Homo sapiens: one gene and its partner. The protein of the gene in region 2 purifies or fractionates together with the protein of the main gene of each other region. This does not show direct contact. Each region holds a gene or a part of one and is shown on either strand. Other genes may lie near its edges.

Region 1 (3,500 bases), on a different chromosome or scaffold from region 2:
CCCTAAATTTTAAATCTACTCTGGCCTTGCGTGACTAGAATGAGATTTCATGCACTAGAACTAATGGCCACATTTTTGTTAAGTTAAAATAAAACAAAGTGACTGTAAGAGTAAGAGAATCTTACCTTGAACGTGGCGAAATCCCATCTCTACTAAGAATACAAAAATCAGCTGGGCGCGGTGGCACATGCCTGTAATCCCAGCTATTGGGGAGGCTGAGGCATGAGGATTGCTTGAACCCAGGAGGCAGAGGTTGCAGTGAGCTGAGATTGCACCACTGCACTCCAGCCTGGGAGACAGAGTGAGCCTGTCTAAAAAAAAAAAAAAAAAAAAAAAAAAAAAAAAAAAAAAAAGAATCTTACCTTGAACATGTCCACCCAGATCAAAAGTTGTAAACGTCATGCCAGCAATGGTCAGTTCTTCGGAAGCTAAATAAGATTTTAAAATATTTTTACATGAAAATTAGAAACCCATTAATCGTGTAAAAAGTAAAGTAGAGGTTCCTTTTCAAAGACTTTCCTCCCCATCTAATTAAGAATAAATAGTAACTTCTCTTAGAAGCAAAATTGATTCAAAGACCCGTGCTAACATTCTTAAATATCTGCCAGCCGTAATAAAGAAATCAATGTACTTTATGTTCTTAGCTCCCACAATTTAGCCTAAATATTTGCCCTGGCATACTTACACTGGTCCAAGCAAGCATTAGGTCATAGCCTGTTCCTCTTCCTTATTTGAAGGTGTTTTTACCTTTCTCAGCATTCCACAAGTTACTTCCTCCTTCCTTTGTTCTCCTCTGCCTTTGCCTCTTTTAAAAAGTTCTAAGTTGCTAGCCAATCAGGACAAATACAGAATGTGAGGTCCCATTCCAGCCAATGGAAACCGGACACAGCAGTAGGGTGGACGCATCAGATTATAAATGACCCTGTCTCCTTTGTTCGGTGTACTCTTGTGGCAAAACTGCTGGCAAGTGTACCCTTTCTGCAGAAAGTAAAAATGGCCTTGCTGAGGAAATTAAATTTATGTTCAAGTGCTATCCTTTACAGCACCAGGGAACAAGCATTTCTAACAATAGCTTATATTTACTACTTAATGTTTGATTTACTTTTATTGCAAATAAGGTCAAATCAAACATTTACAAACTGGTACAATAATACTTTTTTGTAATTAGATATACACCAATTCATACTGACAATATAACAAATAATTGTAATATTCAGTTCTAGTATTCTACTCACCACAAATCCAACATTTATTTTTCCTTCTCTATTCTTCCTGCTGAAAATGTTAATCTCTTCAGACAATTATTTGCTATGAATTCAAATAACTGCTCCAATCTAATAATTGTTCATATAATTCATCTTAAATGATACAGGTGAAATAATTTTCTCTTATGGCTGACATAAGACAGTCTTTAATTACAAAAACAATTACCATAAAAAATTGTGGCCATTATTTCCATAACTATCTTTCTTTCTCCTCCCTTCCACTTCTGGGACTTCAGTTGCAGGTTTGTTAGACTGCCTGATGTTGTCTCACCAGTCATTGAGGCTCTGTTTATTTTGCTTTCAGTCACTTTTCTCTCTGTGCTTCATTCTGGAGTTTCTGTTGCATTGAGTTAAGTTTAGTGGTCTTTCTTTCTGCAGTACTGGCACTATCTAATTTACTATTAATCCTATCCAGTGAAATTTCCATTTCAGGCTGGGCATGGTAGCTCACACCTGTAAGCCCAGACTTTGGGAGGCCAAGGTGGGAGAATCACTTGAGCCCAGGAGTTCGAGACCAGCCTGGGCAACCCAGGGAGACCCTGTCTCTATTAAAAAAAAGAAAGAAAGAAAAAAAAGAAATTTTCATTTCAAATACTGTATTTTTCATTTCTAGAAGTTTCATTTGATTCTGTGTTATATCTTCCATTTCTTTCCTCATGTTTGTGTTTTCCTTTAAATCCCTGAGCACATTCATAACGATTGTCTTATGTCTTAATCTGCTAATTCCATCATCTTTGTCACACTTGTGTCTGTTTCTACTGACTGAATCACTTTCCTGTTTCTTTGCATGTCTAGTAATTTCATATTGAGTGCTGGATTTTGTTGTAGTCTTTTGAAGAAGGTTGAATTTTGTTCTGACAGTTCACTTGCTTACAGATCAGTTTTTAACATTTGTTAGAAGGCTAAATGGGATTAAACAACAATTCCTGGCCCCATGAGAGCTCTAGTAATTATTTGGCTAACAGCATTCTTACAATTGTTCTTTGACTAGCCTTTTGGAGCTTTACCCATTGCATGCACAGATTGGTATTCAGCTATGTAAATTTCTAGAGTCCTTTCTCTCCAGAGGTCCCTCCTCTCCGGTACTCCCTCCTCTCTGTCCTAGCAAAAAAATTCTAGTCCTGTTGGCCTTTCCAAATTCTGGTCTACATCTCCTCAACTCAGCAAGACTATTGGACTATGTTTGGGTGTCCTCTCTTTGCACCATGGTCTGAAAATTACCTCTTGGCATAAAACCAAAATAGAGTTGTTTCCTTTCTCTCAGGAATCACAGTCCTGTGGTAGCTGTTGCCCAATGTCTGAAAACAGTTGTAGCATCTTTTTTTGTCCGGTTTTCTAGTTGTGTACAGTGGGAGGGTAATTCCAGAACCAGTACTCACTTATGGCCAAAAGCACAAGTGCCCCATAATGACAACATAAGTTTTAGTGTAGCTACTTTAGCCCAGAGTTTTTATCTTCTTAAGAAATTCTGGGGGCCGGGCGCGGTGGCTCACGCCTGTAATCCCAGCACTTTGGGAGGCCGAGATGGGCAGATCACGAGGTCAGGAGATCGAGACCATCCTGGCTAACGAGGTGAAACCCCGTCTCTACTAAAAATACAAAAAATTAGCTGGGTGCAGCGGCAGGTGCCTGAAATCCCAGCTACCAGGGAGGCTGAGGCAGGAGAATCGCTTGAACCCTGGCGGCAGAGGTTGCAATGAGCCGAGATTGCCCCACTGCACTCCAGCCTGGGGAACAGAGCGAGACTCCATCTCAAAAAAAAAAAAAAAAAATTACCCAGGCATGGTGGCAGGTGCCTGTAATCCCAGCTACTCAGGAGGCTGAGGCAGGAGAATCACTTGAACCCAGGAGGCGGAGGTTGCAGTGAGCCGAGATTGCGCCATTGCACTCCAGCCTGGGCAACAGAGAGAGATTCTGTCTGAAAATAAGAAGAAATTCTGGGCCGGGGGCGGTGGCTCACGCCTGTAATCCCAGCACTTTGGGAGGCTGAGGCGGGTGGGTCACGAGGTCAGGAGATCGAGACCATCCTGGCTAACACGGTGAAACCCCGTCTCTACTAAAAAAATACAAAAAATTAGCTGGGCGTGGTGGCAGGCGCCTGTAGTCCCAGCTACTCAGGAGGCTGAGGCAGGAGAATGGCATGAACGCGGGAGGCGGAGCTTGCAGTGAGCCGAGATTGCACCACTGCACTCTAGCCTGGGCGACAGAGCAAGACTCCGTCTCAAAAAATAACAA
Region 2 (3,500 bases):
TCTCTCCACCTCAGCCCCTGTGCCCAAAGTGTCCCAGGTACAAGCCCACCTCTACTCGCCAGGTCCTCCCCCACCCCAAGACCCCTGTGCGCGCGTGCCATGCAGCCCGGGGCCAGGTCCTCCCCACCTCGAGACCCTTGCGTGCGTGTGCCATGCAGCCCGGGGGTTGACTGCTGTGGGGGCCCCCTCTGCTCTTGGGGCCTGTGTCCTACAGCTTGCTTTTCCCGCAGGCACTGATTGTGGGGTACGCATTCCACTTCCCGCACCTGCTGAGCCCGCAGATCCAGCGCTCTGCCCACAGGGCTCTGTACCGACGACACGTCCTGGGCATCGTCCTCCAAGGCCCGGCCCTGTGCTTTGCAGCGGCCATCTTCTCTCTCTTCTTTGTCCCCTTGGTGAGTGCTGGGACAGCCCGTGGGGCCCAGGCAGGAACGGGGGCCACCATAGGAGCAATGTCCCCGCTGAGCAACAAACACGGGGGTGGGGGCAGAGCGCAGACAGGCAGGGGTTCCACCCAGGGTCTTGTGTGTGAGGCCCAGGGCTGCAGTGAGTGGCACCAGGGAGGGAGGCCTGCTCCACCTGAGGCCCCGAGACCCAGCCTGTCGAGGACAGAGACGGACGCTCATCGAAGGAAGGGGCAGCTGAGTGTCCTTCTCAGAGAAGCTTCACGATGACGATGACCAGAAACAGCGACACCCGGAATCCGGGGGTGCATGCGTTTTCTTGTTTTGTTTTTTGTTCATTGAGGCAAGATCTCGCTGTGTCACCCAGGCCGGAGGGCAGTGGTGTGATCTTGGCTCACCACAGCCTCGACCTCCCGGGCTCAAGTGATTCTCTCACCTCAGCCTCCCAAGTAGCTGGGACTACAGGTGTGCACCACCACACCTGGGTAGTTTTGGTATTTTTTGTGGAGACAGAGTCTTGCTATATTGCCCAGGTTAGTCTGGAATGCCTGGACTAAAGTGATCCTCCCGCCTTAGCCTCCCAAAGTGCTGGATTACAGTGTGAGCCACCACGCCAGCCTTTATTTTCTTTTTTTCTTTTTTTTTTCTTGAGACGGAGTTTTGCTGCCAGGCTGGAGTGCACTGGCGCAATCTCGGCTCATTGCAACCTCTGCCTCCCAGGTTCAAGCAATTCTCCTGCCTCAGCCTCCTGAGTAGCCGGGATTACAGGTGCCTGCCACCACCCTCAGCTAAGTTTTGTATTTTTAGTAGACACGGGGTTTCACCATGTTGGCCAGGCTGGTCTCGAACTCCTGACCTTGTGATCCACCCACCTCAGCCTCCCAAAGTGCTGGGATTGCAGGCATGAGCCACTGCGTCCAGCCTATTTTCTTTTGGATAAGGAATCTATACAAAACTGTGTCAGGACAGTAAACATCAAACAGTGTTTGGAGGAGGAGCCCCTGGGGATAAGACCAGTATCTGCTCATGGGGACATCAGCTGTTGGTGCTTGGAGAATGTGAGCCACTAGGGAGAGGGAGAAGGCAACAAAAGCACTGCTGGAGACGTGTAGGTGTCGTGAGTGGCGCCGCTGTGAGCACTGCTGGAGACGTGTAGCTGCCGTGAGTGGCGCCGGTGTGAGCATTGTTGCGTGTGGAGCCACTGTGGGCATTGCTGGAGTGATGCCTCTCTGAGCATTGCTGGACACGTGTCTCTTCAGATCTGTCTTCTCAGGCTGTTGGTGTGTGTGCCCACAGTGAGTTTCTGGGTCATTTGGTGATTCTGTTTAATTTTTTAAGTTTAATTTTTTGAGGAACCACCAAACTTCCACAGCAGCTGCAGCATTTTACATTCCCACCAGCAGCACATGGTGGTTCCAGTTTGTCCACATCCTCATCAACACCTGCTGTTTTTCAGTTCTCTCCATCCTAGTGGATATGAAGAATCTCGTTGTGGTTTTGATCTGCGAGAGGTCGACCATTTGCATGTTTTGTTTGGAGCAATGTCTGTTCTCATCCTTTGCCCATTTTTAATTGGGTCGTCCTTTTATTTTTGAGTTGTAAGAATTTCAGATAGGGAGATAGACGATAAATTTTAAGACACGGTCTTGCTCTGTCACCCAGGCTGGAGTGCAGTGAGCTGGGTCACCTCTCACTGCAACTCCTGTCTCCCAGGTTCAACAGGCACACACAGTCACACCTGACTAATTTTTTATTTTTCGTAGAGATACAGTCTTACTATGTTGCCCAGGCTGGTCTCGAACTCTTGGGCCCAAGCGATCCACCTGCCTCAGCCCCACAAAGTGCTGGGATTACAGGCATGAGCCACTGTGCTGGCTTAAGAATCCTTTACACTTTTTGGGTACTAGGCCCCATCAGATACATGATCTGCAAAGACCCTCCCTTCTGCCGCAGCCCCTGCTTTGGCACACAGCTTTGTGTGGGTAAGGCCTGGCCTCGGACCCCTGTGGAGGGCACTGACCTGCGGTTTGTCTCCCTGCAGTCTTACCTGCTGATGGTGACTGTCATCCTCCTCCCCTATGTCAGCAAGGTCACCGGCTGGTGCAGAGACAGGCTCCTGGGTAGGTGATGACTGGGTGGGCTGGCCTGAGAGGCCTGTAGTCCGCCCACCTCCGTGCGGCTGCTCCGCACTGAGGGCTGTCCGTGGGCCGAGGCCCGTGTGCGTGGTGGTGGCTGGGGCTCCCCCACTCCGCCCCTCGGGCGTCCCTGTCCTGTCTCCTCTCCTGGCCTGCACATTCCAGGCCTCTTCATGGATGAGGGCGGTGACAGCCACGCGGGCTCTACCTCCACATGGGGGGTTTGGCCAGCTCCACCCTCCTGGCGTGTCCCCAGGCCACAGGGAGCCCTCGGCTCACCCAGTGGAAGTCTTCTCGTTTGACCTCCACGAGCCACTCAGCAAGGAGCGCGTGGAAGCCTTCAGCGACGGAGTCTACGCCATCGTGGCCACGCTTCTCATCCTGGACATCTGGTGAGGACCCCGCGTCACCTGCCCCAGCTATCAGGTGGCCAATGTGTCTTGAGTCCCTGGCGTCTCATCCTGGAAACCCCAGAAAGGCACAGGGGTCTTGGCTCCACCCTCCTCTGGATGCCTAGAGTTTTGTGTGAGGTCAGGGCAGCCCCCACTTCAGGGAGGACAACCTTCCCGGCGGCCCCTCCCTTCCCAGCGGCCCCTCCCTTCCCAGCGGCTCCCACCCCAAGCACAGCCGAGGATGGGGTGCCAGGGTGAGGTCAGCACCAGCAGCCAACTGCTCTCCTCACTCCTCTCAGAGGGGCTCAGCAGCCATGGGTATCCCCCTGCCCCAGGCCTCACCCCTGCCCCAACACCAGCCCCTCCTAGTCCCTAGTCCCTCCCATTCCCTCCGGCTCCCTCCCAGTGCCCCCCATCGCTTCGCAGCCCCTCCTGCTCCCTTTGGCTGGCTGTTGCTTCCTTCCAGCGTCTGCTCCTCCGCGGCCTCATCTGCCTCTTCGTCTGTTAGAGCGCGCGTCTCGTCTCAGTCGTCACGTTTTTGGTTTTTGTGGGGTTTTTTTTTTTTTTTT

Evidence for each region. Proteins that work in one complex are often made in the same cells at the same time.
Region 1: the proteins of TMEM175 (region 2) and SAR1B purify together in Homo sapiens (affinity purification with mass spectrometry; one large-scale study listed by BioGRID and IntAct). This does not show direct contact.

What each region holds. Positions count from the first base shown.
Region 1 is NC_000005.10:134,612,329-134,615,828, forward strand, and holds part of SAR1B (small COPII coat GTPase SAR1B), read right to left. Parts: intron 705-3,500; exon of another isoform or gene 686-704; intron 429-685; coding exon 363-428; intron 1-362. UniProt on the Homo sapiens protein: Small GTPase that cycles between an active GTP-bound and an inactive GDP-bound state and mainly functions in vesicle-mediated endoplasmic reticulum (ER) to Golgi transport.
Region 2 is NC_000004.12:952,960-956,459, forward strand, and holds part of TMEM175 (endosomal/lysosomal proton channel TMEM175), read left to right. Parts: intron 1-230; coding exon 231-395; intron 396-2,445; coding exon 2,446-2,524; intron 2,525-2,795; coding exon 2,796-2,931; intron 2,932-3,357; coding exon of another isoform or gene 3,358-3,439; exon of another isoform or gene 3,440-3,500. UniProt on the Homo sapiens protein: Proton-activated proton channel that catalyzes proton efflux from endosomes and lysosomes to maintain a steady-state pH.